3 separate regions of the Homo sapiens genome follow, and regions 1 and 2 are each linked to region 3. The links come from fine-mapping of genetic effects on gene expression. A gene starts in region 3. Each other region holds a variant in brackets. All regions are shown on one strand. Distances are from middle to middle. Region 1 overlaps DIPK1A (divergent protein kinase domain 1A). Region 2 has its middle 40 kb from the start of DIPK1A. Region 3 holds the start of DIPK1A (divergent protein kinase domain 1A).

Region 1 (10,997 bases), 26 kb after region 3:
AAAAATAGGGATAATTCTGTTTTTTAATAGCTGAGTCCTATTTCATTCTGGCAAGAAATAATAGTTACTGCACGTTCTTAGATGACACCAAAAGCATGGTTCATAAAGGAAAAATTGATAAATTTGATCTTATCAAAATTAAAATCTTTTTCTCTGCTAAAGACCCTGTTAAAAAGATGAAAAGACAAGCTACAGACTGGGAGAAAATATTTGCAAATCACATATCTCACAAAGGACTAGTATCTGGAATATACAAAGAACTCTCAAAACTCAGTTTTAAAAAATAGTCCAGTTAGAAAGTGGGAAAAAGACACGCATAGACATTTTACCAAAGCTATATAGATGGCAAGTAAACACAGATGAAGACATTCAAGCTTATTAACCATTAGGGAATTGCACATTAAAACCGTGATGAGATATCATCAGAATGACTAAAATTAAAAATAGTGAAAACACCAAATGCTGGCAAGGACGCAGAGCAACTGGATGATTCATACATTGATGTAAAATGATACAGCCATGGAAAGCAGTTTGCAACTATTTAAACTTATGGTGAAAAATTGTAGATGTCAACTTAAAAATATGCAAGGGGGTATATAGTTTTCAAATTATTTGTGGGATCCACAAACAAAAATGCTAGAGTTTAAAACCATAATACCTCCATTGCTGAAAGGGCTACATTCCAAAAGAATGCCTTTTAAGAAATCAGAATCTTAAATATCAGAGGTAGTTGAAATATTAAGGAACTTGGCATTTGTCTGTTAAGGGGTAGAATTGTAGTACCAAAAGTCCCTTAATTAAATGATAATCACATAAAATATGGCACTAGTAAGAGTAAGAAAAAGAAGTGTTGTACTATGTTAAGATGATGTTATTGGCTTTAAATGCCTATTTTTAAATCAAGGTCAAGGGATGTGCTCGGACAGATGTGTTCAATAGCCATGTTCTAAACAGGCAAGAGAGAAAAAGGAAAGGCAAGTCAGGGGAGAGTTGTGTTTTTAGCAGTCTGTGTTGGGTAGGGCAGAGTGATGTCGGACACTCATCTCTACTCCCAGAAATCACCCTGAAAGGACTACATCAGGTTTACCTTTAGGTAATGCATGATTTCAGATTTCCTATTTCTAGCTCCCCATGTATGGAAAATCTCTATATATGCTTGATGATGCTGTCCCAGTCTTCTTAAATGGGGGATTAAGCCTTCCATTTCACCATTAGCCAGCTTAATATACAGGTACTTAAAGGATTAGTTATAGTATAAATGAATTTCAGTCATTTGATAAATATAGTTGTTTTTTTTTTGAGACAGGGTCTCACTCTGTCGCCTAGGCTGGAGTGCAGTGGCGTGATCTCAACTCACGGCAACCTCTTCCTCCCGGGTTCAAGTGATTCTCCTGCCTCAGCCTCCTCAGTAGCTGGGATTACAGGCATGGGCCACCACTGGCTAATTTTTGTGTTTTTTGTTAGAAACAGGGTTTCACTATGTTGGCCAGGCTGGTCTTAAATTCCTGACCTCAAGTGATCTTCCTGCCTTGGCCTCCCAAAGTGCTGGGATTACAAGCATGAGCTACTGCTTCCAGCCCTGATAAATGTAAATTTTCTATGATCATTTTTTAGTTGACAGAGAAGAATGTGGGAGGAAAGGGGTATCATTGGGTGGAAGGGGGCATATGGGAAGGTGGGGAAGCAGAGGGTTAAGCTTTGAAGTCTACAAATAGAAGCAGAAGTGAGGTATTTTAGTCTTGCTAATGTATTACTTCACATGATTTAGGAATGTTTTGGTTAATTTTTAAAAATACTGCTGACTGCTCTATTAAGAAATTTGTATCCCTGAAGATTAATTAACCTAAAATATATCCTATTAAATTAGACTAATGCAAAAATGGCCTATAGCTAGATCTACCCAGTGAATGTAAAAGTCATTCGGTTATGTAGACTTCCCTCCCCAAAGGTGATAGAAATTCAGTGTACAAAATGATAGTATTTGGTTATAAATGTCTTATGTAGCAAGTATTTTTATTGAAGTAATTTTGAATTTAAAGAAAAATGGAAGGCCAGGCGTGGTGACTCACACCTGTAATCCCAGCACTTTGAGAGGCCGAGGTGGGCAGATCACCTGAGGTCAGGAGTTCGAGACCAGTCTGTCCAACATGGTGAAGCCCCGTCTCTGCTAAAAATACGAAAAATTAGCCAGGCGTGGTGGCGGGCGCCTGTAATCCCAGCTACTTGTGAGGCTGAGGCAGGAGAATCACTTAAATCCGAGATGCAGAGGTTGCAGTGAGCCGAGATCACACCACTGCCTCCAGCCTGGGTGACAGAGCAGGACTCCGTCTAAAAAATAAATGATAAAAGTAGAAAGAATTCTGACATTATCCAACTTTAAGGTGAATAATATGCTTTAGCATGAGATTTCAAGTATATGATTTGACTTGTGTCAAGCTCCTTTGTCCTTCTGACCCTTATTTTTTTCATTTACCAGTGAGGTGATGATTGATAGGACAGTTTTTTCTTACCTCCCTAATAACAATTCTGGGAGAATTAATTCATTATTGAAAGAGGAATTCTTTAGCCTGCTCATAAAATGATATATCCAAAAATTATACATTTTTGAATGACTTTCCAAAAATACATTATGGCTTTCTATGTTGGACTCTTGCTATTTTTAGAATTTTTTGAAGTCAAATTAGTGAAATGGCTAGTTTCTCCTTTCAGATTAATTGTCTGTCTTTGGTATATGTTTATGAGTTGCCTTAGAGGAATCAACTTTTTTTTTTTTTTTTTTTTTAGTAAAGGTCTCGCTCTGTTGCCCAGGCTGGAGTGCAGTGGTGTGATCACAGCTCATTGCAGCTTTGACCTCCCTGGGCTTAGGTGATCCTCCCACCTCAGCCTCACCTCAGCCTCCAGACTAGCTGGGACTACAAGTATGCACCACCATGGCTGGCTAATTCTCCTGGCTCAGCCTCCCAAGTAGCTGGGATTACAGGTGTGCACCACCATGCCTGGCTAATTCTTCTGGCTCAGCCTCCTGAGTAGCTGGGACTACAGGTGTGCACCACCATGCCTGGCTAATTCTTCTGGCTCAGCCTCCTGAGTAGCTGGGACTACAGGTGTGCACCACCATGCCTGGCTAATTTTTGTATGTATTGTAGAGACAAGGTTTCACCACGTTGCCCAGGCTGCAGTTACATTTTTACTTGAAAATCGTTCATTTCTAATGCCTTTTTAATTTTTTAAATCAGAAAAGAACAAATTTGTTCTGCCAGACTATTATTAGGTTCCTAATTCTGTGAAGCTGTGACCTGGGGTAAAGGTTAATCTGTAGTTAGCTTAAAACCAGTTTCATTACTAGCCTTTACAGTATACTTTGGTATTTATCCAAGATCGGGGTGCTGGCTTTTTATGTGAAAGGCCAGAACCTTAAGTAGCAAGAAAAAGTAGTCCTTAACTTTTCATTAAAGTATAACATGAATATTGAAATGTACATTTATGCTCAAGGAACACCATTTTACCAGCATGCTAGATCTGCAGTCAGTTAGGAATTGATTTTTGTATATGGTATAATTACAGTTAAAGATACATGTATTTTTTCCAATTAGATATTCAAATGACCTGGTACTGAGATTTTTTAAAAAGCAGCATTGTCCAAAAAAGCAACTTTGGCAATAGTTGGTTCATTCACCACTAGAATGAATTCCAATCCTAGCCCAAAAGGAGGCTGAAAGATGTGTCAGAGCCTCTTTTTCTTTCCGGATCACCATTTAGTCTGTAAAAAATAAAGCATGTGGGGATTTCTGTTGTGATCCCCACAAATTGAAAGTCACATCTGCAAAAGTTAGATAGAAGTATATCATGCAGTATCTGTGAAGTAATACTTGCAAGGTATTTATGATAGGTTAGTCACCAGTTAATGTGCTAGGAAGAAGTCACCATGCCCGGCTATTTTTTTTTAATATTTTTTAGTAGAGACAGGGCTTCATGTTGGCCAGGCTGGTCTCAAACTCCTGACCTCAGGTAATCTGCCCGCTTCAGCCTCCCAAAGTGCTGGGATTACAGATATGAGCCACCATGCCCAGCCTTGGATTAGCTCTTTATGATTCCTTAATCCTTTTTTCTAGTACCTTACAAATTAATTTTTCTGTTTTACATCTGTTAAGAGACAAAGGACTTAAGTGCAATTAAATTGGACATAAAACTGGTAAGAATTTATTACATAGTAAAACTCATGATCCTATTCAATTGTAAACTCTTGGTAGCTAGTGGGTACAGGGACTATGTTTATGCTTTTTGGATTTCCATAGAGTGAATGAACAGTGAATTGCATGTAAGGGTATCTATATCTTTGTGAATTCACAGTTGTCTCAAGTAGTAGAAAAGCAAAAGTAAAAGTTGTTTTTACAGTTGATTTACAGTTTTCACCAAAGATCTAAATGACCTGTGTATTAAACAGGATCAAACTTCATCATCCAGGACCATGTATAACAGCACTCAATAAAGCAATAGATAAAGGGTCTTGATGTCTGATAGTGCTGCGTGGTACTTGCTATGGAGGGTCTGGCAGAACTGGACTAAAACAGCTTCTCTGAGCTTCTTTCTTTCTTCTTTTTCTTTTCTTTTTTTTTTTTTTGAGACGGAGTTTCGCTCTTGTTGCCCAGGCTGGAGTGCAGTGGTGTGATCTCGGCCCATCGCAACCTCAGCGTCCCGGGTTCAAGCAATTCTTCTGCCTCAGCCTCCTGAGTACCTGGGATTATAGGCATGCACCACCATGCCTGGCTAATTTTTGTATTTTTAGTAGAGTTGGGGGTTTCTCCATGTTGGTCAGGCTGGTCTCAAACTCCCGACCTCGGGTGATCTGCCTGCCTCGGCCTCCCAAAGTGTTGGGATTACAGGCGTGAGCCACCATGCCCAGTTTCTCTGAGCTTCTTTTATGTTCTTCTGTTTTCCCTTCAGAAAAACTATACTTAGGTTTTCAAAGCTGCCTATTTAGTTAAATGAATGCAGAAAGATGTGATCCAGATTTCCATAACTTCAACTCTGTACTGCATTTTTCTGACATTGTTTTTCTTGCTGACTCTATGCAGAGCCAAATCTACAGCTTTTTTATAGTAGAGATGATGTTTCCTGTGAGGTTTTTTTGTTGTTCTTATTGTTGTTCTTTTGTTTTTCTTTTTGAGATGAAGTCTCTCTCTGTCGCCCAGGCTGGAATGCAGTGGCGTGATCATAGCTCATTGCAGCCTTGAACTCTTGGGCCCAGGTGATCGATCATCCCACCTCAGACACCTGAGTAGCTGTTCCAGCCACCAGAGTAGATGTTCCAGCCTGGCTAATTTTTATCTTCCTATTTTTTGTAGAGACAGGGTCTCGCTTTGTTACCCAGGCTGGTCGTGAACTCCTGATCCTCCCGCCTCAGCCTTCCAAAGTGCTGGGATTACAGACATGAGCCACCATGCCCAGCCATTTCCTGTGTTTTAATGTCTTTAGTTAGTTAGTTATAGAATAGTGAGGGATTTTTTTTTTTTGCTCAGTTACTTGAACACGTTATAATATAATAAGGATAACATAAAGATCTTATCCTTGAGTTGTCTGGAACTGTATTTTAAATGATAAAACTAATTTCAGTGACCCTGATTGACCCTGTTGATTTTATAGATAAGGACGAAACATGTTCAGGTCACGCAGCTAGTCAGTAGCAGGGATAGCACTTAAATCCTGGTCTTGTGACCTTGATTCCAGTACCCCTCTCTGCTTTTAAATATATTGAGCCGTAATTTTTAAAGAATCTCCCCAAGTTTAAAGATTCAGAATTTATTAATTGTGTTTTAATAGTTTTAAAACCATTTCTAATCTCATTTTATTTTGGTGACTCTGGGACTTAAAATACATAGTTCTTTAAAAAACTGTTATATTAATATATAGTATCTCACAAAATAAAAGTATATTGCAATTTCTAGCAAAACACTGAACGGGAATGTCAAGTTATGAAATGACTTAGATTAAAAGAGTTTAAGATGTGAGCAACACGTTCTTTTTAGTATTATTTAGACAGTAGTGTTGCTCAATAGAGAGGTGGAAATATTGAACTGGGAATCTCAAGACCTGTGTTTTGTCCTGTCACCAACTAGCTGTATGATTCTGAGCAAATGACCCACCTTCGCTGGGCTTCAGTTTGCTTGTCTGATACATAAAGGAATAGAGCTAGAATTAGAACTATCTCTTCAGTAAATAACTCTCACTGTTGCTGAATGTGAGAAGTCAGGCAGAGCACATTTGTTGTCAGAAGTCTTTGGACATGAAAATGATCTGTGCCTAATATTCTTCATCTTGACGCTAGTAAGTAACCACAGGCCCGCCAGCCAGCCAGCAATCAATCTCCATCTGTAGAACTTCCATTGTTGTCCATGTATAGCAGTCTGGAGAAGGGCCAGGTTTTATTTTTGCCAGGAACTCTCTTGGCAAATCTGTAT[C/T]CCTAGGGATGTCTGTTTAATTTTGTGGTGCAGAGCACAGTTTAGTGAAAAAGAAGAGGAATGCTGAGCTATTTGATTCTGAATGCTTTCAGAGATAGATCATTTTCATTTGTTTCCATAGTATCTATGTTTCAAGATGTTTTGAGGGAGAAGGTGAGCCAAAATAAGATGAAAAGAGGAAGGTGAGAAACCTTCCAGTATATGCTGACTCAGGAAATACATTTGAACTATGCAAGTATGTGTGTTTCCACAAATAGAAAACTTCTGATATACATATCCAGATTTGTCATTTTAGCTTTTCTCATGCATAACTTTTTGATTTTAAACTAGTCTCCTAGATTTAAACTGTTAAGAAAAAAAAACTTTTATGGAAAATTGGCATATTCTACTAGATATTTCAAAACTGTCCCATTATCTTGCCTTCTGGAAATAAATATAAAAGTATTTGAATTTGAATAAATTCTCCACTTTTTAAATTCATTTATAAAGATCTCAGTTTACATCTAGATTTAACATTCATTTGTTCAAGAAAATTTATTTTGTGACCAAAAGTTGTATGCTGAAAATTAAATACCTGAATTTCTTAAACCATAGAAATAGATCAAGTTGAGGTTGCATTTAGTTAAAATGCCAGTGTGTGTTACCACTGACCTTCATTTTTTATTATCTAAAGTTTTTCAGTCTTTCATACCTTTAACATCTTTTTCTTCTAACTTTCATATCCATTTGTTGACAAATCCTAAGAAGTTTACTTTCATAATGTCTCTCAAATTTCACCCTTTATCTTCACTGCTGTTGGCCTATCCTAATCCAGAAGGGCCTAGATTGCTGCAACAACTTCCTAACTAGTCTCCCTTTCCTCAGTATTACCTTTAAAAGTCTTAAGCTAACATCCAGATTAATCTTCTTTAAACATCAGACTGTATATCTGTTTAGAAATCTTAAAACTTCTTCATTTAAGTCTCAATACTGTCAAGCATTTAAAGCCCTTTATGTGTGGTCCTTTCTTTTCCATCCAACTGAATTAATTCAGCAAATAGTGTTGCAAGCAGCGATATGTGAGGCACTGTGCAAAGATAAAGATAAATCAAATCTAGCTTCTTGCAGATATAGGTCAGCATTAATGTCAACACATCCGGGATTTTTTTTTCCTTTTAGAAACTTGTTCTACTTCATTCCATTCCACTTAAATTATTCTTGCCCAAGATATCAGTGATGTCCTCATTGTTAGATTGGGCAGTTTTCTTTTCCTTTTTTTAAGAAACAGGGTCTTGCTATATTGCCCAGGCTGGTCTCAAACTCCTGGCCTCAAGCAGTCTTCCTGCCTTGGCCTCCCAAAGTGTTGAGATTATAGATGGGAACCACCCCACTGGGCAGTTTTCAATATGAATTTTACTTTACTTTGTTATGGCATTATATACTATTGACCATGCCTGCCTCCCTGATACTTCTTCCTTCTGTAGTTTTTAGGTATAGAAACTATTCACCTTTTCAGTTTCTTCTTAGAACTTTTCAAAGGAACAAAGTTTTAGTTCTGTTGATTTTTATTTTAAGTTATGTTCTGTTTCATTAGTTTCTATCTTTATTATTTCTTTCCTTCTACTTCTTGGGTTTTGGGGGTTTTTGTTTGTTTTTCTGTTCCTTTTCTTCTTCTTGAGATGTATGTTTAGCTCTTTCATATTTTAAAAAATATACTTTAATTTTTAGAGCAATTTAAAATTTGCGGCAAAATTAAGCAGAGCATTGTCATATACCCCTCTGCCCCACACATGTACAGCCTCCTCCACTATCAACATCCCTCACCAGAGTGGTACATATGTTACAATTGACAAACCTACACTGACACATCATTATCTCCTGAAGCCCTTAGTTTACATTAGGGTTTACTCTTGATGTACATTCTTTGGGTTTTGACAAGTGTATAATGGCATGTGTTCACCATTATGTTATCAATCAGAGTAGTTTCACTGCCCTAAAAATCCTCGGTGCTCCACCTGTTCATCCCTCCAACCCTTAGCAACCACAGATGTTTTTACCATTGTCTTTTCTAGAATATTATGTAGTTGGAATTCCACAGTATGTATGTAGCCTTTTCAGATTGGCTTCTTTCACTTAGGAATACACATTTAATCAGGTAGGGTATGTCTGACAAATAATTTTCTAAAATCTTAAAATGACTACAAAAGGAATACACATTTAAGATTTCTCTACATCTTTTCATGGCTTGATGGTTCATTTCTTTCTCTTTTTTACATTTTATACTTTAATAAAATGATAAACACTGTTACAGGTAAAAGACAGTTCAGTACATTTAGTTGGATAAGATTTTTAAAATTTTTAATTTTTTTTTTTGAGACAGAGTCTCGCTGTGTTGCCCAGGCTGGAGTGCAGTGGCGTGATCTCAGCTCACTGCAACCTCTGCCTCGCAGGTTTAAGTGATTATCCTACCTCAGCCTCCCGAGTAGCTAGGACTACAGGCATGTGCCACCACACCTGGCTAATTTTTGTATGTTTGGTAGAGATGGGGTTTCACCACGTTGGTCAGACTGGTCTCGAACTCCTGACCTCAAGTTATCTGCCCGCCTCGGCCTCCCAAAGTGCTGGGATTACAGGCATGAGCCACTGTGCCCAGCCTAGTTGGATAATATTTAAAAATTTACATATTTGCGAGCTCGTAGATTCTTTACCACCCTGGTATATTTTAATCTATGTAGTCAGAGTCTTCTGGAATTCCGAAAGTTTTATCAATTTTATTTTCTTCAAACCCAAATTTTCTTTTGGCCCAAGATTTTATTGCAAATATGTTATCAGTCTATCTGTTAGCAAGTACTTTATTTGCCTGATGTATTTCTTCAACAACTTGCGGGTCACATTATTTGCATTTTTCAACTTCTGCCTTTGATCCAAGAGTGAAGAATGCTCTTTGGCTAACACGGTTCACTCCTTCATCTCATGTTGGCCAATTTTAGTTTTTCTGATGCTTTTCTGTAAGTTTGCATGCTTTTGGCTTCCCTGAAACAACTGAGATTTCAGAACCTCCAATTTATACGTTCTTGCATGAAGAATTTTACTTGGAAAAGACTGATAATAATTAGAAGTTCCAGTTCTCTCACAGTCAACCATATCATTATCAACTAAACTTTGAAGGACTTTTTTCTTTTACTAACACAGCAGTAATGCCTTTCTCTTTGGGAGCAGTCCTCTCCATGTCTTTTTTTTTTTTTTTTTCAAGAGATGGCATCTCGCTATGTTGGCCAGATTGATCTTGAACTCCTGGCCTCAAGCAGTCCTCCTGCATCAACCTCCCAAAGTGCTACTATTGCAAGCATGAGCCACCGCACCTGGCCTTCTCCATGTCTTTTAATTGAAATACATCTTTTGTTTTAAAAAATGTTTCCATCATGCAGGCTCTCTTTTCTTCTGCACTCAGTCCTTTTTTCTTTGATACGGTGTGGGCACCAGGCCTTCCAATGATGGGGTCTGCACATGGGGTGAGGGGCCAGCTCATTTCTTTTTATTGCTAAATAATTGTCCATTGTCTGATGTACCGCAGTTTATGTATCATCCACCTACTGAAGGACATCTTGGTTACTTCCAGGTTTTGCCAATTATATGAGAACTTTGTACTTTCTGTTCAGTTTTTCTGTAAACCAAAAAAAAATGCTCTAAATAATAAATCTATTAATTTAAAAAAATAAGAAAAAAGAATCTGTCTCTCCATTCATTCAACAAACATTTGTCAAATATCTAATATGTGCCAAGCAAAGAATGAAGTACTAGAAGTAATCAATTACATAAGACATATTTCTTTCAAGGAGTGTAGTCTAGTGGGAAAAGTAAGTCAACAATTGGAGTGATATTTGTATTTCAGAAGTGTGTATAGAGTGTTACAGGACCCCAGGAAGGGACCATCTTAGTCTTAGTTGGTATAGGGGAGGGAGAGACAGAAAAGGCTTTTAAGAAGCCATGTTTATTGGAGACTTTTAGAATGAGTATCAGTTGACTAGATCAAAATTTGTGTGTGAGGGCATGGGCACCTTGAGATAATATTCTGTATAGAGTAAACAGTATCAGAAAAGGCATAGAAAGAAGAAACAGCATGGCATGAACAGAGAACTACAAAAAGTTCTTTCCTTCGCAAAAGAAAAGATTGCGTTTGGGGGTATTCAGGTCATGAAACTAAGAGGGTAAATAATACCTTGAAGGGCCCTCTGTGTTAAATGAATTAGAATTGGTTCTATATCCTGAAGGCTAAGGAGAGTTACTGATGGTGGATTTAGTTAATATGAGAAGATTCCTCTTTTTGTCTTCTGCAAATACATAGAAATGCTGGATAAAATATAAGCTCCCTTTCTCAGTTTTTTTTTATTACTACCTAATTAAGTTTGAAAGCAAGCAAAGGAAATCTCCAGATACCAGAAATGACAAGAAAACTCAAACTCAGATATGAAAGAGAGCTAAAGCCAAAATGGCCAATGGGGAGTGGGAACCATAGTTTTAAGGGCTATATGAGGTGAGGAGAAAAGACTTTAGGCTTCT
Region 2 (10,997 bases), 40 kb before region 3:
TTTTTTGTGACAGAGTCTCGCTCTGTCACCCCGACTGGAGTGCAATGGTACGATCTCTTCTCACTGCAACCTCTGCCTCCCGGGTCCAAGTGATTCTCCTGCCTCAGCCTCCTGAGTAGCTGGTATTACAGGCACGCGCCACCATGCCTGGCTAATTTTTGTATTTTTAGTAGAGACAGGGTTTCACCATGTTGGTCAGGCTGGTCTCGAACTCCTGACCTCGTGATCCACCCACCTCGGCCTCCCAAAGTGCTGGGATTACAGGTGTGAGCCACCGCACCCGGCCTGATTCCATTTTTAACACATTGATCATTACCTAATATCTATGGGTTTCTCACTTAATATTTTTCTCAACCCCTCTGGAAGAGCAGTGGTCTTCATACTTATTCAGGATAAAATACTGGGAAATCGTGATGCTCTTTGTGACATAATAATGCATTTAATTTTATCTTATGGGATAGGAACAATTTGCTTCCAGAAAAATGGTTGTATGCATGTACTTTTTGGTGAGGCTCTCAGCTTAGCCTAAACTATAATTCAGATGTCCATCTGGGCATGCAGATCCTACAACCACCCCACCGTGATCCCAGATTGGCATTAGGCAAGTAGCAAAAGATCCCTTTTATTTGCATATGTATATAAAAATATAGCAAAAGGAATAGAATGATACTTATCGAGTTTAAAATAATAAATTCACTGGGGGCTGGGTGTGGTGTCTCACGCCTATAATCCCAGCACTTTGGAAGTCAAGGTAGGTGGATCACTTGAGGTCAGGAGCCTGAGACCAGCTTGGCCGACATGGTAAAACCCTGTCTCTACTGAAAATACAAAAATTAGCCAGGCGTGGTGGCACACGCCTGTAGTCCCATCTACTTGGGAGGCTGAGGCAGAGAATCGCTTGAACCTGGGAGGTGGAGGTTGCAGTGAGCCGAGATTGTGCCACTGCACTCCAGCCTGAGCGCCAGAGTAAGACTCAGTCTCAATAAATAAATAAATAAATTCACTGGGCATGATGGTGCACATCTGTAGTCCCAGCTACTTGGGAGGCTGAGGCAGGAGGATCACTTGAGCTCAGGAGGTGGAGGCTGCAATGAGCCATGATTGTGCCTCTACACTCCAGCCTGGGTAAGAGAGTGAGACCCTGTATCAAAAAAAAAAAAAAAATTAAAATAATGATTACTTCTGGGAACCAAGAGGGATAACATTCAAAAGATACTTTAGCATTAACTTAATGTTCCAATATTTTTTAAAGAAGTATATGTGTGCACAAATATGTACATACATAGGCAGAGAGAGAGAGAGACAGAGACAGAGACAAAAAGATGGAGAGAGACAGTGAGACAGAATGTTTTTAAAAATAGTAGGAACATCAAATGTTTTTAAAAATAGCAATGTTTTTAAAAATAGTAGGAACATCAAAAAGGACTTGGAAGCAAATATGCCAAAATATTAACAGCAGTTAATTTTGAGTGGTAGGAATATAACAGATTTTTTTTCTTTATTCGCTTACTTATTTTCTTAATTATTCCTCACTAAATAAAATAATATAAAAATAAAATCAATCACAAAAATAGAAATAAATCACTGCTAAGAAGGCTTTTACTGTATTAAACTGATCGAAAAGCTTAACCTTTTTTTCTCTGCAATACCAAACTCATATTCTTGCACTTTCAGTTCCTAGTTCTAGAATTTCTCTCTATTTCTCTCTCCTTTTTTTTAAACCATTTTATTTTTAATACAGTGCTGATGTTCTGAAACTCTCTGGAGAGGAAAGATGTGAGCATGACCTTGTGGCTTCTCTTGACTTTCCAGAGTCATTTTAGATTCAGAACTGATTACATATTATCTCTAACCAGCAGAGTGATTGAGCTCTTTGAAAAAATAGAATTTTAATGTCTCTTTCTATTAATAGCTTGCATTTTTAATATGCTTTGTTGAGTAGATTAGTCTCAGAATCTGCAAAATCTGTGGTAAAACTTGTTTGATCACAAAGTCTTTGATGGATACAGTAAGTGCTCTGCACCCCCTTTCAGCACTCAGAATTTTAGTAATCACATGGCTGATATTGACAGCTGTAGAAGTGTTCAGGGTAGGGATTTTTGTCTGCTTTGTTCATTGCCATAAGCTTCCCCAGTTCTGAGAACAATAGGTAGGTAGCGTGAAAGTGCTCAATAAATGTTGAATAAATACATTAATTTGAAGCATTTAGGAACACCTTACTTATGTATTGCTTAATTTAAGGGTTTGTCTACTTTCTCTCAGGGTGACAGTCTCTAAGAATATGCATAATAAAGTACGAGGGTTTCAATGTCTTCTCTGATGGAAGAGAAGAAAAGCACCGGGGAATGGGAGCCTAGACTGATCAGGCTTGGGTCACATGCCCACTGGGGGAGTGGGAGGCAGTATGAAGATTGGAGTGAGACTCACTTACGTCAGGAATCCAAAACAGTCAAACTCACAGAAGCATAGAGCAGAATGGTGCTTCCCAGGAGCTGGGTAAAGGGGAAATATAAATGCGGAGGTGTCAGCCAAAGGGTGCAAAAAGAGAGAGTGAGGAGGAATCTTAGGGGTGATGGTGATGTTTATGGCATTGTCTATAGTGACTCTTAAACAGTTGTATACTTATCTTCAGACTCTTCAAGGTGTATATATTAACTATGTACAGCTTTTATGTGTAAATTATACCTCGATTTTAAAAAAATGAATTGGCATAGGAGAGGATCAGCTAAAGAAGGGGAGTGCAGTTAACAAGAGAATAGGACATAGGGCATTGGAAAAGTAAATGCACATGGTATCCATGAGCACATCATAAACTATTCACCACATTAGAAATTTCAGAGACAAAACTTTAAAAGAGAAATAGGAGGAAGATGGTAGGTATGACGGTGAGGGGCAGAAGTTGGAGGAACAGAAGAAGCCAGAATGTGTGAGGTCTAGCACTCTGGGATGAGGACTGAGAGGGAGTCAAGCAGCAGATCAGCAGGCGCAGCAGGTGCAGCAGGCCAGGGCGCAGGGCTGGGGTTTTACTCTGTGTATGGAAAGCTCTCAGAGGGTCTTGAGCCAGGAGGTGACATGATCCATTTCTGTTTTTATTTTTATTTTTTAAATTTAGGGCTGGGCATGGTGGCTCACGCCTGTAATCCCAGCACTTTAGGAGGCCAAGATGAGTGGATCACGAGGTCAAGAGATCAAGACCATCATGGCCAACGAGGTGAAACCCTGTCTCTACTCAAAATATAAAAATTAGCTGGGCATGGTAGCATGAACCTGTAGTCCCAGCTACTCAGGAGGCTCAGGCAGGAGAATCGCTTGAACCCGGGAGATGGAGGTTGCAGTGAGCTGAGATCACCCCACTGCACTCCAGGCTGGGTGACAGAGCGAGACTCCATCACAAAAAAAAAAAACTAAAATTGTACGTATTTATTTATTTATTTATTTATTTATTAGAGACAGGGTCTCACTCTGTGAGCCAGGCTGGAGTGCAGTGTCACAATCATAGCTCATTGCAATCTCAAACTCTTGGGCTCAAGCGATCCTCCTGCCTCAGCCTCCTGAGTAGCTGGGACTACAGGTGCCTGCCACCATGCCTGGCTAATTTTTTAGATATTTATTTTGTAGGGATGGGGTTTTGCTATGTTGCCCACGCTGGTGTCGAGCTCCCAGCCTCAAGCGATCCTCCTGCCTCAGCCTCCCAAAATGCTGGGATTACAGGCATGAGCCACCAGACCCGGCTTATTTATGTTTTTAAAAGCTCATTCTGGCAGCCATGTGGAAAACCGAACACGGGGAGGTAGCAAGAGTGGAAACCTGGAAACTGGTTAGGAAGGTATTTCAGCCATCCAGGCAAGCAGTAGAGAGACATATTAGACTTGTCAGACGTTAAGTGACAATTCACATAGTTAATCGTGATTGGGATATATGTTGCAAAAGGGATGAATAGGGCAACTTGGTCTTGTCTGGGGGATGGGAGGGGAGTTAGCTAAGGTTTCTCTGAGCAAATGACATTTAAGCTGGGACCTAAAGGATGAGTGAAAAGGAGATGAGTAGAAAATTTCTAGCACAAGGGATACTGGTGAGAAGCTTTGAGGCCAGAGAAAGCCCAGCTCACTCCAGGAACTAAAAGGAGGCCAGTGTGCGTGGAGCAGAGAGCAAGAGGGGAAGTTGTGTGAGATGAGGCAGCAGGAGGTGGATCTTCCAGGGTCTTGCAAGCCTTACAAGCCTGGTCACACTATTGGGCTTTAGCCTAAGTGCAGTAGGAAGCCATGGAGAGATTTTAAGCCTAAAAGGAACATCACTTGTTCCCTCACTTAACATTTATTTATTAAGCAATGTCTACATGACAAGACGAGATTCACAGTATAGAAAGAGCACTTTGTAATATGGGATGTTTTTAAGAGGGGGCACAGAGGGCGAGTGGGCAGGCTTCTGAAGTAGATATTGGGAGACCATGGTGCTTTGGGTCACAGAGGTGGGAATGGGAATAGAGGGAGGTGGGGGACATGGTGATTGGCAGGCTGGTGGAGCAGGGGTGAGGGCAAGGCTCTGAGATTGGGCACTGCACAATAAGCACTGGCAGATGGGGTTCAGCAACGGGCTGGGACATTGTATTAGATTCCATTGAGAGTGTGGTCAGTCCCTGGCTTCTTATCCCATGAGTATCTTAGAATATCCTTAGAGGACGGTGATAAGACTTGCAGAATTATAAGACTAGCAGGAATCAGATGACACACTTAACTTAGAATCATTCTAATTGGATTTATTTACAAAGGGTTGCTTATAGAGACGTGGGCAGGGTATAGGGGAACCACAAAGGATAACCCTCGGCCCCAGTGACGAGGGGAGGGAGCAGTCACCAGACGCCAGAAGGAGGTAGTCACATGGAGAAGGTCACCTGGATAGAAGCTGTAATCCTTGGTCAAGGGACTCACAGGGAAGAAGCCAAGGAGTAAAAATTCTTCCTGACTCATTTTCCTCCCTTTCATCAGTCCAGTGCCCCAAATCCCCACTGGTCAACCCCAACCAGAAGCCAGAGGACTTGGAAGCTACAGTGTGGTGTGTTCAGACCAACCTCCAGGTGGAAGTGTGGAACAAAGAATGGAAAATGGAGCTGAAGTGGCAAACAGAAGTCAACCAAACTCAGTCAAACTCAACCAAACATAGTCAACCAAATTTACAATTCAAAGTGTCACTTCTTGGCCTGCATTGGGTTACAATTTTATTTTATTTATTTATCTTTAATAATAGAGATGGGGGTCCCACTATGTTGCTGAGGCTGGTCTCGAACGCCTGGGCTCAAGAAATCCTCCCACCTTGGCCTCCCAAAATGCTGGGATTACAAGCATGAGCCACCACACCCAGCCAAGGGTAAGATTTTAAATATTCTAATTGGGAAACAAAAATGGAAGAAGGAAAATGTGTGAAGTTGTTCCCCAACTGTTGGAGGAAGCCCCTCCATACATCTCCCCTTTAAAAAAAAATTTAAGGAGTTGACAAATAAAAGTTATATATATATTTATGTTGTACCATGTAATGCTTCAATATATGTATACATTGTGAAATGGTTACATCAAGCTAATTAACATTCAACACCTCACCTATTTATGGTCTTAGTAAGACCTTCACCCATGCTTATCTGTTACTCAGGATATTTAGTTGTAAATTCCAATGAAAATAACTTTTTGGTATCTGTAGCTTTTGCCAATCGTTTAGCAAAATCTTCTAAAATACATTTTGAGAAATGTGGATTTTACAGTGAAGTTCAAAGGAATTCAGTTTGCATCCTGCACAAATGTGGATTGTTTTCTGCAAAGACAACATAGGCAACTCTCTGAAGCTTAAGCATATCAGGACTGGGCCATCCTGGCCAAATAACAAAATTATTTCTGCTGTATCATGAATTTGAGTTATCAAGCTTTCTGCCGGTTATTTTGCCCACTAGCCAAGTTACAGCAAATTTGTTTTTCTAAGCACATCGTCTTTTTAAAATCCATGACAAATCATATGGAAAAAATGTCATTCTTGCTTAAAACCCAGCTGGTCAGGACATTTTCCATTTACAACCCAATAAAACAGGTTAGTCAGGTATCTTATTTCTTTGCTCTCTAAAATGTTATAATCCTGGAACAGGCTTTTAATATTTTTCTTAATAGCTCTGGTTTCCACTGAAGTTAACAATGATTATTTGTGGTCTGATAGTTCTCTTGGCACTACACCAAAAACAGAAGCGAGAAAGCACATTCTCAGCCAGAGAGGCTTAACAGCTAAGCCAGACATTCAGCTGAGAATCCAAATTCTTCTCTTCTATACCTCCTC[G/C]CTTCCTTGAGCAAAAATGTCATCTGGCAGGTTTTTTGGTTTCCTAACTCCAGAAAGCTATTTGAGCCCAGCAATTCCCAAAAATGTCACAGCATTTTTAAGTGCATATAAATTCCATCTATTTTCTTAAATAGAATATTTGCCTCCAAGTTAAATCAAGTACTTTCTTCTCTACTTAGAAGGTTCTTTATCAAATATTGTCTTGGGCCAAACTGCAGCCTGAGACTAATCATGTAGGCAGGTCAACAGCAGGTTGTGAGGTGGATACAAACAAAGTGGAATGCTATCCCTTCTCCCCTTTCCTCTTCCTCCTGCAGTCTGTCTCTGCCCCGCAGCCCCTCCTAGGACAGTCTTCCCCTTGAGAAAGGGAAAACAACACTGAGAGGGTGGGGGCAGGGAGGCTGCATGAAGAGCTTGGGAAAGCTTGGTTTCTGGGAAAGCTTGGTTTCTGAACACTTTAACTATCGAAGTTCAAGAGCAACAAAGAAGTTACAGTAAAAAGCCTAAGAAGCAAAAGGCAACTTAATTTAGTCTTTAACTTTAAAAATTAAAAGTAGGGAACAGGAAATTCTACTTAACAGAAGCAAAATTAATTCAAAAAATCCAATTCTAAGTTATAATCATTTAAGGGCAAGAGAGGTGATGGAGAATGAAGGAAAATGAAGAGGGAGAAATAGAAAAGTGACCTTAATGATTGTGAAATTTCTGTGAAATTCCTAAGAAGCACAGGTCTAATGTATTCATATTAGTACTATATATGAACACCCTTAATATATTAATCCCATTTAAAAAAGTACAACCCTTTAAGAAACACAGGTAAATACCACTAGAACTTATTTTTCTAGAAGAGGAAATTGCTACCTAGAACTTAGAAACCTAACCATTCGTAAATCTCTCTATCTTTATTATTTTAAACTAGAAAAACTCTTACTTCTGGGTATGAAAGTGGAGAATGTCATATCATATGCATAGAGAATTGGGTCAAGTTGAAATGGATCAGCGCGATTTCAAGATTCTTTGGAATATTGCCACATGAGGTGGAAATAAGTGGGGTTTTCACTTTTTATAATTGTGACTAGTGGTATTACTCCGTAGGGCTGATGAAATTAACAAAGTTCCTCTGTCCCTCCTTTACATGAACTCAATTCGAAAAGTTGAGGAAGGGCCAGGCTTATGCCTGTAATCTCAGCACTTTGGGAGGCCCAGACAGGAGGATCACTTGAGGCCAGGAGTTCAAGACTAGGCTAGGCAACATAGCAAGACCTCATCTTTACCACACACACACAAAAAATCGCCGAGTGTGGTGGTTCACACTGTGGTCCTAGCTACTCAGGAGGCCAAGATGGGAGGATGACTTGAGCCCAGGAGTTCAAGGCTGCAGTGAGCTATGATGGCGCCACTGCACTCCAGCCTGGGTGACAGAGCAAAATTCTCTCTAAAAAGAAAAGTTGAGAAAAGCCCGCAAATATCTTCCATTTCTTTCATGAAATCTGAATATCCACAGGCCTCTAGCCTGTAAGTACAAATGAGCATTTTTATACACATTTTGTGAGGCGATGATCCCCACCTATTCATGACTACCCCACTACAGTGTTCTCCCTCCCAACTCCACAGCAGTGTTTCTAGAAGTCTCTGGGGAGTGTCTAGGGGTACTTAGGAATTCCACGAGTTCCCATCCCACTAGACTTGTTGGGCATCTCCATGTCATTTAGACATCTGTTTATGGGAGAAGCAAAGGGACTCACCCTCTGGCTCTCAGCTCCCTTTTGGGTAGCCTCACACTGCTCTCTCTTGACACCGTAGGCAGCTGTGTGGCGAGATGGCCTGCAGGTTGCCATGGCTCCTTTGCCCTTGGAAGGCCTGGGAGTCAGATGACGGTCAGGGAAGGGGCTGATGACAGGGGTGAGGTCCAGCAAAGGGGAGACCTAGAGGGAAAAGCTTGGGCCTGGCTCTCCTATTAGAGCAGAAAGATAAAGGAGACTTCTGTAGTTTCTATGATTTCCAGCACAGCTCAGCGGAGCAGGAGACCAAAAGAGAGTTGGGATCAAATTTTGGACCAAAGCTAGAGTCATTTTGCCTGGCTTCATCCCCTGGCTGTATGGCTCTCCAGGACTTATAGGTGCCATGTACGTAACTGGCCAGTTACATACAACACAGCTCACTCCATATGTCTTGTGTCAGAGATGCTCACACAGACAGGGTTTGGGTACATTTTCTTTTATTTGCTTTAAACTTCCACCAGCAACCTCAGAAAATCTCTCTATGGACAACTTAGTACACTGACATTAACTCCTCCCACCACAAAGCAAATCAGCCAAGATGTATGAAAATAAGTTTTATTAAAACCAATTTGTGAAAACTAATTCCTGTTCATCTTTAACAGTCAAGTTACAGGGTTCCAAAGTCCATATAATTCCTCAAAAACTTTTCCTTGGGTCACTCACAGTACTGGGGGTTCCATGGTCATTCCTGACTGTTCATTCGCTTAATTTCTTGCTTTGATAACATGGCTTTTCCAGCTCTCACTTATTTGCCTGACTTCTGACCTGACTCTCATATACCTGGTCAGACCTGGGTCAGACCCCTTTTCCATGCGGGGAGATTGGCCTGACTCCTTTAGGCAAATGGAAGGCAGACCCAGAAGCAGGGCTATCTCTTTGCAGGCCTGGAGGCTATAGAGTGGAAGGCAAATTCTACAACTGTGGCCAAAATCGAGAGCCAGTCTAAACCAGAGAAGTGTGTCCAAATGGGTCATCAGGACAAAGGGGCTCAGTACTGGTCAAGGTGGACAGAGTGAGAGGAGGGAGATCTGGGGTAGCAAGATTGAGTAGGGTAGCAGGATTAATCTCACAGAAACTGATACCTGGGAGATGTTCATACACTTCTTTGGAAGGTGTTGCACAGGCAGGCCACACCCATTTAAAGGCAGCAGGATGGGATGAACAGACAGTTCTCTGACTATGTCCTGACAGGACCTCATTCTCTGCCCACATGCTCCTCCCTAGCCTGTTACAAACGCCACCTCCCACCCCCAGAGCTCACCTAGTTTCTGCCATGACCTGTGAAATCTGTATCTCCCTAATTTCTATTGATCTTGTTTATAATTTGTAATTCCTTCCTTTGCATTGGCCTCTAATTTTTATGGGCACCTGGATAAAATATTTACTGATCACTTCTTGCCCAGCTGACATAAGGAACCCTTGTCTTTTTCTGAGTGCTGTATCTAGTAGAATAGCCCAGACCTTGAAGTTAGGCAGGTCTATGTTTGGATCTCACCCTGCCAACTTGCCAGTTGTGTGATTTTGGTTAAGTTACTAACTACTCCAAGCCTCAATTTTCTCATTTGTCAAATATGCACAATGAGATTATTGTGAGGATTATGTGAGACTTCATATATAAAATAAATGGCATAATGCCTGGCAGAATATATACTTTGCATTCGCCTTTCTTTTGAACTCATTTTGTAGGGGAAAAGTGAGTGAAGAAGCCATGGTTTTGTGGGCACCTAAAGTTCTGTTTTATATATCACCAAGAAGAGAAATAGGATTCTCTGGGTTTATGGGAACCTAATAACTAAAGTTCCTGGCAATAGATGAGTCGCATGATGTCTTAATCCTAAAATTAAGAATCATAAGAAAAGCAGTGGTATCTGCAGTGTCCATGGCACCATTTAACACTATTCAAACATTTCAGGCAAATCTCAGTAGTAATGTGTTTTGCAGTAGCCCTTTTGATTTTTTGCTTGGCAAACTGTCATGACCTAATGGTTAGAAAGGGACTTGGATAGAAAAAGGGAAACCCCGAATATTAATCAGTTCCCATGCTTATGAATAGTAAACAGAATTAAAACTGCCTGATGAAATTAATTTATTAAAAACCTCTTTAATAGAGCAAAAAGAATTCCAAAAAGGAAAATATGTTGGCATTATATGCCTCTAAAAAAGTATTTTTTTTTCAATAAGGCCGATGGCAGAAAAAATATAGATAATTAATCAGAATAAATGTAGTTAAGAAAAACTATTTTGGCCAGGAGCTGTGGCACACACCTGTAATCCCAGAACTTTGGGAGGCCGAGGCAGGCAGATCACTTGAGGTCAGGAGTTTGAGACCAGCCTGGCCAACGTGGTGAAACCCAGTCTCTACTAAAAGTACAAAAATTAGCTGGGCATGGTGGCGTGCGCCTGTAATCCCAGCTACTCGGTGGGCAAGGCAGGAGAATCGCTTGAACCCGGGAGGTGGATGTTGCAGTGAGCCAAGATCACGCCATTGCACTCCAGCCTGGGGGACAGAGCGAGACTCCGTCTCAAAAACAAACAAACAAAAACAAACCCAGGAAGTGAAGAAAAACTCAGGCAAAGGTTTAGTAATAAATAATAAAAATGATTAAGTGACTGACAGTAAAGAAATTAAGTGGCCCTCATAAATGCATCCTGACTCAGGAAAAACACTCAATGATTCAGAAGCAATGGAGATAATACCATGATCTATAGACAAATCTGCTGGATGATGGGCACCTGGGGAAAGCAGGGAAGTACGTGCTATAAAATAGGCACCTGTGGCTTGTGACTGGCCTTGACAGCCTAGAGTCCTCCAGTTCGCCTATGCAAAGATCTCATTCCAGGCAGAGGATCTAGAAGTCACCAGGCTAAACTTGCTAATATCCTTGTACTTACCCCGACCCTTCC
Region 3 (10,997 bases):
AAACTCCGCCTCCCAATTTCAAGCAATTCTCTGCCTCAGCCTCCCGAGTAGCTGGGATTACAGGCACCCGCCACCACGCCTAGCTAATTTTTGTATTTTTTAGTAGAGATGGGGTTTCACCATCTTGGCCAGGCTGGTCTTGAACTCCTGACCTCGTGATCCACCTGCCTCGGCCTCCCAAAGTGCTGGGATTACAGGCATGAGCCACCGCGCCCAGCCACAGTTTTATTTTTAAATGCCAATATTTACAACACAAAACTGAAAATTACTTCCTTTACAATTGTTTAATTTTATGATAAAAATTTTGGATGTTGATATAAAACATCAGAGAATTCATATCTTTTTCAAAATTCTTTTGAGAATGTGCAAACAAGAAAGTTCAAAGACCACCGATCTTGATTTTCCTGTACTGGAACCCACTGGAGTAATTTCTTTGTCTCTGGAAGGCCAAAGTTACATTACATATGATGACTAAGAGGCCACAAATTAGCACCTCTGAACATAACCATATGAATTAGTTTTGGATTAGCTAGCTTTTACTTAGAAAAACTTAAATTTTTAAGTGCCATAAGAACAGGCACCAGCACAAGTACATTTGGATGTTTGTAAAGTAGGTCCAGTATATGACATAAAGGCTGGCCAGGCCTCTGCAGTGAGAGTTCAGGAGAACATCAGACCAGAGGCAGAAAGGATCTTGCCTAAATTTGCCAAGGCCAACGTGCTTGGATCCATCTTGGGACTCATCCAAGTGGATTTATAGCCAAACTGCAAGTTCAGTGGTACAAGGGCTCACCGTACCCACCTGTATGCAAGGTCCTCAGGATGGGCCCTGGAGGGCAAGGGTCCTGGGGCATGTGAAGACAAGGGAAGCAACTCAAGTTGGAAATGAAAATCTTCTAAACTACTTTTCTCCATTCAAATAAAACATTAATTTCATTTAGTCTTGGGTGACTCTAAAAGGAAACCCGAATAACCATTTCTTCTCATTTGGTTCAAATTTTGTCCTTGGTATCCTTGTTTATATCTTTTACCGTGAGAAACACCAGACCACCATGCCTCCCTCACTTCTCACCTGACCCTCTCAAGGCTCTTCACATCACCTATTCTGAACTCTTCTCAAGACTCCCCAGTTTTTGAGGCTTTTCCACTGTGCCCTCTGTCTATCATCAGCAAAATCCTCTATGTCCTCCAACGCTTCTCTAAATATCTCCTGCACCTTCTTGTCCTAACACCAACCTGGCTCATCCCTGTGGATGCTGTTGTCCCTGCAGCCTTCCCAGCGCCCTCATACCACTGAAGTGGGAGGTAGGAGAGGGCTCTTCCATGCTTCTTTTAAGATATTCTTCCTGCTTCCTCTCTAATTCCTGCCCCTGCCCATTATCTTAAAACTCATGTCCTCTGATGTTGTCACTCACCTTCCTCATTCCTCACCTACTCACTCACAGATCACTGTCTTATCAAGGACTTTAGCTTTTGCTACTGACATCTTCCCCAGCACCTCCTGTCCTAAGTCTTACTGTTTTTAATACGCATGCATATAATCTGTATGACAGTCTGTCCTTGACTCTCTTCCAATGATCCTGCCTCCACATCCCTTAGCCATTCACTGCCATGGTGGCATCCCACCCTAGGTTTAATCACTCCTCCATAGTCTCAATTTCATGGATCCCACTAAAATTACCACATTGTTGTGGTCACCCTGCAGAAGCCAGATGGGCTCCTCCACCTAAAATTTAATTTGGACGTTGAGACTGATGATGTTACACTTGCACCAAGAGGGTGTGAAAAGGTTTATTCACATACTGCAGCTTTCTGGGGAGAGCAGGGCAGGCTCCCAAACTGGTTCAAAAATGGCTTAAGGGAGCAAAGAAAGGAGACTATCTTAGGATGTCATGGTGGTTAAGGGGTAGGACCACGGTGAGGGCTCTCTCACATGGGCTGGGTCTTGCACGGTTTGAACTTCCTGCTGGCATCAAAGGCATCTAGGCTTTCTTATGTTTGCACAGAGGAAACAGGAGTGGCAGGGCTTCAAAGCTGTCAGCACATATAAAAAATGGAGTCAGACTTGCAATATAGATATATATTTAGAGACAGTGTCTCACTCTGTTGCCCAGGTTGGAATATATGGAACGATCATGGCTTGTTGCAACCTCCACCTCCTGGTCTCAAGGGATCCTCCTGCTTCAGCCTCCGGAGTAGCTGGGACTACAGGTGCACATCACACTAAAGAGTTTTGTGACAGTTTTTTGGGGTTTTTAGCCATGCTTGGCTAATTTTTAAATTTTCTATAGGAATGGGATCTCACTATGTTGCTCAGGCTGGTCTTGCGCTCCTAGCCTCAAATGATCCTCCCGTCCCAGCCTCCCAAAGTACTGGGTTTACAGACATGTGACACTATGCCCAGCCTCAGACTATTACATACCTCCTATCTTTCCAGATCATTCTCTCTTTTCCCTAGACTCCTACAACCCCTCAACCCCAGAAGGACTTGCAATTCATTGATCCTACCACCTTTTCACTGTCCTTAAACTCTCCATATCCACTCTTCCCTCCTTAATCATCTTAAGTTCCATGGTGAATCATAATCATGCCCTTGCTTATATCCTCAACTTCCTTGTTCTCCTCTCCTTGCTCTTGTTCCTTTAGTAAAATGTGATTAAACAGAATTTCAGCCTACTCTGGACCTGCTTCCTAGGAGCTAATTATTGCTGGAGAAAGAAGCACACTCATACTAACTTGTCTCACTTAAATTCATGACCATAAACTGAAGTGGGCCCTACATGACACTCAACAAGCACACAATTATTCTCTGGTCCATTGTCTTCTCATTCTCCTAGATGACATTTCACACCTTCTCTTCCCTTTTCACATAATCTTTCCCATCTCCTCCCAGCTGATAGCATTTCTTTCTACATCTCTAAGAAAATTGAAGCAATCAGAAGAGAACTTCCAAAGATTCCTATTTACCATGCCTACCCACCTGCCTGCCTGTTTCCATAGATCAACAGTCTGTACTCGTCTACAAATGATCCTTCCACTTGTGTGTTAGTTTTCAAACGCTTTTTCCCTCTCAAGGACACCACTCCAGCACTTCTCACTTCTTGTTTCTACATGAATTTTCCCTTTTCTTCCGGATCATTCCCATTAAAAACAAGTATTTCTCCCCCTACCACCTTCTTTCTCTCTTTTTTTTTTTTTTTAAAGAAACAGGGTCTCACTCTGTCACCCAGGATGGAGTGCACTGATGCGATCATAGCTCACTACAGCCTTGACCTCCTGTGCTTGGCCTCTCCCCATTTTTTTTCAATCTTCTTTTGACTCTGCTTCTACTGTCCCAGATTTGGGCTCCCCTTTGTAAGAGAACTTCTCAAAAGAATTGTTTGTATTAGCCACCTCCAGTTTCTCTCCTCTCATTTTTTTCTTAAAACCACTCCAATCAAGTTTTTCCTCTATTGCTCCACTGAAGGGTTATCAATGGCCTCCATGTCACTAAATCCAACAGTCAATTCTCAGTGCTCACTCGCAGAGGAGCACTCCCTCTTCCTAGATCCACAAGCTTCACTCGGCTTCAGGGCACCTCACTCGGGTCTCCCACTTCACTGGCTGCTCCCTTTCAGTCTCCTTGGCTGGCTCACCCACTACCCTGTCTTAAAGCTGCATTGGTCCCCAGAGCTCCATCCTCAGTCGTCTTTTATTTACACTCACTTCCTTGGTGATCTTAGGCAGTCTCATGGCTTTAAACGCCATCTAAATGCTGATATCTCTCATATACCTCTAGCTTGGACCACGCTCCTTAATCCTAGACTCATTCATACATACAACTGCCTAATCAAGATCTCCACTTCAATTTCTAATAGATACCTTAAAATGGAACTTCTCCAAAACTGAACTCCTCTTTTGCCTCAAACTTCCTCTATTTGTAGTCTTCCCCATCTCCCTTGGTGTTTTCCCCATAACCTTTATTAGCATTCTTATCCAATTTGATTTTATTGATTACATTTATTATTTATTGCCCCTCTCTCTCACATCCACAAGCGCAAGGATTTTTGTCTGTTTTGTTTATGTAACCGAAACAACTTGAATGGTGCCTGGGTACTCATAAATCTTTATTAAATGAATGAATGAAACCACTAGGATTCATCCTTATCTTACTCAGAAATTACTGTCTCTTGACCCAAACAAAATCAATGAAAAATTGGTTTATCTGCAAGCAATAAAATAAGACCAAGTAGCTGTAGTTCCAGCTACATGGGAGGATGGCTTCAGCCCAGGAGTTTGAGTCCAGCCTAGGCAACATGGTAAGACCCCTCTCAAAAACAGAAAGAACAACCACCACAACAAAAATCACCTAGGTTTAAAACCTGTGTCTGTGTGTGGGTTGAGGGAAGGGGCAGACATGAAGGTATCTCTTCAGAACAAGGCACCTGAACAAGGCTTATGCAAAAACCAAGTGAGAATGAGTAATGGTTTGCTTCTGGGGAAACCCCTTCTCAGAGCAACAGGCCGGAATGAGCTCTAACGGGCCACCTAAACTTTGTTAGCATCACGCTTAAACGTGGTAGGTGGGGTAAAAAGCAGCCAAAAAAAAAAAAAAAAAAAAAAAAGCTGCTTCTTCCATTACAAGTCACTTGGATCAACAGCTGTTCTCCCACTAGGGTGGCTCTTTTTTCCCTTATTTGGAACTCATTGTCAAAAGAAAGACACCACACCCTGTGTTATGTAGCCTTAACCAAGCAGCAGGCCACGTCCCAGGCTCCCTGCCTTCAGGACTGTATTTAATTCGGTGTTTTTGTTTTTGTTTTCTTTTGAAATCAGTGTTCCTGGACGGGGCCAGGAAAACTCTGAAGCTGTCTTAAAAACAATATAAACCAAAAAAGTCGGAATTTTTTAAAAGTACATTTTTAAAAAAAGTTGTAGGCCGTTAGAGGCGAACTGGAGCGTGGTAAGGGGGGCACCGAGTTCAGCAGTGGGGCGCCCTGTCCGCGTTCGAAGCTGAGCCCAGTCCTGGGGGGATGCCCCGGTCTGCGTCTCCAGCTGCGGCAGACACCCCCTTCCCCCGACCGCCACCAAGGGCGAGGGAGGACGAGCCAGTCCCCAGGGAAGGAGCCCCAAGCTTCCCTTGAATTTCCAAACAACCCGTCCAGACACGTCCTGACTCCAGGAGAAGAGTCCATGGGGAGCGTCGGTGCTGCCGGGGCGGGTGGCGGGACGCGCAGCTGGGCGCAGCGCGGGGAGCCGGAAGCCGGAGCAGACTGCGAGGCCAGCGCGGTCCGGGGGTCGCCGCATCAGCCAGCGAGAAGCACGCCCCAATCCGCGCCGAGCGTGCGACACCCCCGCTGCCGCGGCGCCCCCTCCCGCCTCCGCGCGCCTCCCCTTTAAGCTCCAGGCGCAGTCGATTTGTGTCGGCGGAGGCGAGGTGCGACTCCCCTTTATGGCGGAGTCGGCAGCAGCCTCTCTGACAGCCGCGGCGGCCGGCGGGCGAACAGGGCAGGAGGCTGGGCCTCTGGCCTCTCGCCGCCTTCACTGCAGCCGGGCCGAGGGGAGCGCGGCGCGCGCCGCGGCGGGGGCGGGGGAGTGGGCGGGCCCGGCCGGGCAGGGGGCGGGGAGGCGGGGGGAGGCGGGGAGCCCGGCCGCCAGCGCTCGGGTCCGCCTCTGACTGCAGCGCGGCGGGGCGATGTGTGATTACCATGGCGAGGAGTCTCTGTCCGGGGGCCTGGCTAAGGAAACCCTATTACCTCCAGGTAGGCCGGCGGCCGCCCAGCCACCAGCTGCGGGAGCACCCGGCCGTGTGCCCTGCCGCGCCGCGCAGGACTCGCCCGCTCCCCTCCTCCCTCCCTGGGTCTGTGCCCGCCCGAACCCCGCTGCCCCCTGCCGTCCGGCACCTGGCGGCGCGCCCTCCCCAGCCCCCTCAGCGGCTCTGCCGACGCCCCCCACCGCGGCCCTCGCGGCTCCCGCGCCGCGGCCAGCCGGGCTCCAGGGCCCGAGTCGTCCCGCCCGGGTACGCCCTCGCATCCTGAGAGCCCCGAGACGTGACCTGGGTACGACCCCGCGCTCCGGGCATTGCCCGCAGCCCTGCGCCGCTCCAGGCGGAGCTCGACGGGCCGCCTTCTCCCTGGTGTTTTCGGGGCTTTCCCCCCTCCCCCGTGGGCCCCCGCAGGTCGGTTGCCCTTGACTCAGTGTCTTGGGTCTTAAGTCGGTGGTAGGAAAGGTGGTGTAGCATTCCTCCGTGTCTTAGAAAATTATGACAATTTGTCACACCAGTGTTTCCCCAGGCTCCAAAAAGCAGCGTGTGCCTCGTGCCGAGCCCCTTGGTTGGGTCGTTCCATCACACCCAAGATTTAAATGGGAGGTGGAGACCGATAAGCCTGAACCAGGCGGATGGGTGTTTGCTTTTTAAAGGAAAGGGGCTAGTGGCTGGTCTGTGGATCCCAAATACCCTAGTAATGCAAACGTAATTCTCAGTCATGTCGTGTGTACGGTTCGCGTGTTAATTTTTCATGATTTCCCGTTCCACCCTCTGTTCCGCTGCCAGTCTGTGCCTTGGAACCCTACTACTGCCTAAGTGTACTGTTTGGTCACCAGGGGGACCTAGTAGACACCGCGAGTAGCTGAGCGCAAATCCATCACTCCGATGGAAAAACAACTACAAATCAATGCCTTGCGTGGGTCAGCAGTGTTAGCCAACGCTGCATTCAGAGGACAGTATTCCTTTACCGCTTACATTAAAAGGCCAAGAGGTAGATGATTTGGGGTCAGCTGGTGCTTTTATAAATTATGAAAAAAGTTGAGAAGGTAACCATCATGAGGCAAGTAAATCTTACATTTTTGTTTGAAAATTGTATGTGTAAGTCATTACCCTGAAATGAGTGACGTATTGCAAATTGGAAGCATGATTTGACAACCCATGATATTAAGCGTGTACGAATAAAACTGAGTCTTTGTAGCAAGCACCACCAATAGTAATTGTGCACTTGAGTAACACTGTCACAACCCCTTCTAGAATTCAACCCAGGCCAGGTACCTCTGTGTAATCTTTTATGTGAGTTTAAAAAAAAGCTTACCGGCCAGGCGCGATGGCTCACACGTGTAATCCCGGCACTTGGGAGGCCGAGGCGGGCTGATTCCTTGAGCTCTGGAGTTTGAGACCAGCCTGGGCAACATTGTGAAACCCCGCCTCTACTAAAAATACAAAAAAAAAAAAAAAAAAAAAAAAGTTGGTTGGGTGCCTGTGGTCCCAGCTACTCCGGGAGGCTGAAGTGGGAGTATGGCTTGAGCCCCGGAGCGGAGATTGCAGTGAGCTGAGATCACGCCACTGCACTCCAGCCTGGGCAACAGAGTGAGACCTTGCCTCTTAAAAACAAAAACAAAAACAAAAAAACGGCCAGGCGCAGTGGCTCATGCACTTTGGGAGGCCGAGGCGGGCGGATCACGAGGTCAGGAGATCGAGACCATCCTGGCTAACACGGTGAAACCCCGTCTCTACTAAAAATACAAAATATTAGCCGGGCGTGGTGGCGGGCGCCTGTAGTCCCAGCTACTCGGGAGGCTGAGGCAGGAGAATGGCGTGAACTTGGGAGGCAGAGCTTGTGGTGAGCCGTGATCGTGCCACTGCATTCCAGCCTGGGCGACAGAGTGCGACTCCGTCTCAAAAAAAAAAAAAAAAAAAAAGTGTTTTACTGTGGAAATTTGTATACCTTCAGAAAACAGAAAACAATAATGAACTGTCATATGCCCATCAGCCACCCTCATCAGTATTTTATTTCATTTCACCTCCCCCACTCCCTCTTCCAACCAAACTTATTTATTTATTTATTCATTTATTTATTTATTTAGAGACGGGTCTCCTTCTGTTGCCCAGGCTGGAGTGCAGTGGTGCCATCTGGGCTCACTGCAGCCTGGACTTTCCAGGCTCAGGTAATCCTTTCACCTCAGCCTCCTGAGAAGCTGGGACTACAGGCGCACACCACCATGCCCAGCTAATTTTTTTAATTTTTGTAGACACGGAGTTTCGCCGTGTTGCCCAGGCTAGTCTCAAACTCCTGGGCTCAAGCAGTCCTCCTGCCTTGACCTCCCAAAGTGATGGGATTACAGGCATGAGCCATCAAGCCTGGCTGAACCAAAGTATTTTAAAGTAAACCTCAGGCATCACATCATTTCATCTCAGTACCTCAATATACATTTCTAATAGATAAAGATATTTTCAGACATAATCATAATACCATTATCATGCCTAACAAAGTTAATAACAATTTATTTTTCCCACCCCTTTCTAGATATGCATCAACCTGAGATTACTAACTAAATTTGATTTGCCATGGAGTGAGTTTACTGTGATTTGGATGGGTCTCTCTGCAAAAAGCAAAACAAAAAACCCTCCTCTTATCAGCTCATTCATGCCACAAATTCTTATGAGGGAAACTAGTTTGATTTCATGTTTTGAAAGAATGTCTTAGAATACAGATGTCTGGTTTAAGTAACTTTTCCTGTGAATGAATGTATTATTTTAATTTAGAGTGAGGGTATAACTATTCAGCAGGTATAAGAGATCTTGTTCTGTTTGGGGGGAGGGGAAGGGTAAGAGTACAGGAAGAAGTTGGATTTATTTCACAGATAGAGGGAAGAGATGGAGGGCCAGGAAGAGGAGAGAAAGGTTGCAGAGACCAGCTTTGTATACTTGCAGTTATGCTGTTTGTCTTTAACTGGATGGGGTCAAAGACCAGTTATGTCCTGAGGTGTTCAGGCCTTAGGAGCTGTGAGTTCCCTTTTTTCTGCAGTGTACAGGAGAAAACTTTTAAGCAGTCAGCTTACTTGTAAAGGAACTTCATTCTCAGTATTTTTATTAATCCAGATATCACTGTGGCATTTGGTAACGCTTTTGGAAAACTGTGGCATTACACAATTAATGATATATTTTCAGCCATAATAGACATTCATGAGCTAATGCAGGCACCTATTCACTGTTTATAGCTTTGCTTATATAGCAGAAGAGATTCTACTGCCTGTGAAGAAAAGAACTTGTGTGGTATATGCATACAACAGAATATTATTCAGCAATAAAGTGAAATGAAGTTCTGATACACACTGTAACATGGATGAACCTTAAAAACATTAAATATATGAAACTAGTCACAAAAGATCACGTATTATTTCATTCATATGAGATGTCCAGAATGGGCAAATCTATAAAGACAAAAAGATAGATTAGTGGTTGCCTGGGGGGAAATGGGGAGTAACTACTGATGGATATGAAGTGTTCTTGAGGGGGACAGAAATGTTCTAAAATTGATAGTGGTGATGGTTGCCCAAGTATGTGAATATACTAAAACCTACTGAACGTTATGCTTTAAATGAATAAATTGTAGGATATGTGAATTATTAGTATATCTCCATAAAACAGTTGAAAAATAAATGAACCGAGTTTATCTCATGAAAGTCGTCCTTCTTCTCTCTGCCTTTTGCTGCAGATTCCACCAAGGTCAGCTTTTTGGTGCAGGGAGCACTTCTTCCAGGGGAGCTGGGCAGGCACACTGTTAGTCTGTGCAGCCTCTCTGTGGGCTAGAAGGACTTGTGACCTGCCTGGAAGGGCCAACAGACGTTTACCTGAGCAACAAGCTTCTCATGGCAAGGCATCTTGCCCAGAGCAAGCAAGCTAATTTACAGTTCCATGTTTTCCAGATATTTTGTTGAAACATTACTTGGGAAATAACACTTCCTGGACTGGCTAAATGATGCAGCACATTGAACAGAGTAGAATCCTGCCTCTGAGATCAGAAACTGTGGATGTATTAACTGCTTAAACCATTTTTAGGCAGTATTTTCTTCCACGTGCCATTATGGTGCATACTACTTGTGGCCTGCTTGGGTGTGATAACCCAGAATGACACCTGCATTTGTCTTTTTTTAGCAGTGTGTTTTCTACAAACTAAGATCTACTTTGTTTAGGGTTTACTCATAGTCTGAGTGAAGCTGATAACACAGCAACCCTATAATTTGTTGGTTTTGGTTTAAAATACCTTCTTCCTTCTCACCATCGTTAAGTCCTGAAAGAATGAAAGTCAAGACAATTCAGCATAATTCTCTGTACTTAGATTATACACATTTTCCATTCCAATCATTCTGCCTATGTGTTCTGTTGCATATGAAAAGTTGGTGCAGTTCTAATGGAATTTGAAGTCCCATGTACTTGGGTCCTTTGAAGGTTTTCAAGCCGTTTTGCTTGTAAGGGGCTTAAAGTTTTAGAAGTATCCTCTTGAAAATGACTGCCCTAGCAATTTCAGTATGTGTTCAGTAGGGTTGTTATGAGTGAATGGGTAGATGGCATGTTCTAGCTAGGGTGTTTGCACTTGTTTAACATTTCTGATACCTGGCACTTTGGCTCGTATTAGTACAATTTTTCAAACATGACTGCTGTGGATGGTTTGGTTCCTTATGAGTTAATGTGGATATTTTGTGAGATTTAGTGCCAGACAGGGTTACTGATACAGATTAATTGGTAATAGTAGTAATGTTGCCAAATACTGTAGTAAAAATGGGCTTTTTGCCCATTTTCAGTCTCCAGGATTATTTTAAATCTAAGGATAATTAGAGCCTATGGTTGTTCTCTATCCTCCAAAGACAATAGAGGGAGAAGATCTGTAGTTTGTATAGTTCTCATTAACTTTATTAGACCTGCTGTTCAGAGATTAGCTTTTGCCTTTGCCTGAAATTTAATCTCCAGAACTATGATTAGCTTTCTGAGACTGGTATGTGTACAGAGAGCCACTTGATATTACCATTAGTTGCTTTTGAACCTTTGTTAGAAGCTCAAAGAAATGGTGAATTCTCAGGCAGATTGCATCCTTACCACATTTCTTTCAAACTGGACCATACAGTAAAAGTGTTTCTTCACTGTAGTCTTCTCAGTGCCTCAGATTTTTTTTTTAAGTTAAAGATTTAAAAGTTTTTAGAGCCATTTTAAGTTCACAGCAAAATTGAGAGGAATGCAGAGAGATTTCCCA

The links. PIP is the estimated chance that this variant, and not a neighbour inherited with it, causes the effect.
Region 1: its variant is fine-mapped to the expression of DIPK1A in aorta (GTEx, PIP above 0.99). The same link has a PIP of 0.9 or more in coronary artery, fibroblasts, tibial artery and tibial nerve.
Region 2: its variant is fine-mapped to the expression of DIPK1A in thyroid (GTEx, PIP 0.98).

What each region holds. Positions count from the first base shown.
Region 1 is chr1:92,930,254-92,941,250 of GRCh38, reverse strand. All of the region lies in intron 1 of DIPK1A (divergent protein kinase domain 1A), which reads left to right. It also overlaps the pseudogene MND1P1. Among named protein-coding and RNA genes, the nearest start is that of DIPK1A, 26 kb to the left of the region's middle. The variant C/T (reference allele first, on the strand shown) is at 6,459.
Region 2 is chr1:92,996,161-93,007,157 of GRCh38, reverse strand. No RefSeq gene overlaps it. Among named protein-coding and RNA genes, the nearest start is that of DIPK1A, 40 kb to the right of the region's middle. RefSeq lists an enhancer at 6,512-6,806. The variant G/C (reference allele first, on the strand shown) is at 6,313.
Region 3 is chr1:92,956,120-92,967,116 of GRCh38, reverse strand. DIPK1A (divergent protein kinase domain 1A) reads left to right here and starts at 5,655. Exons shown (of 5, transcript NM_001006605.5): 1 at 5,655-5,741. The coding sequence starts at 5,688. RefSeq lists silencers at 5,295-5,374, 5,535-6,094 and an enhancer at 9,976-10,075.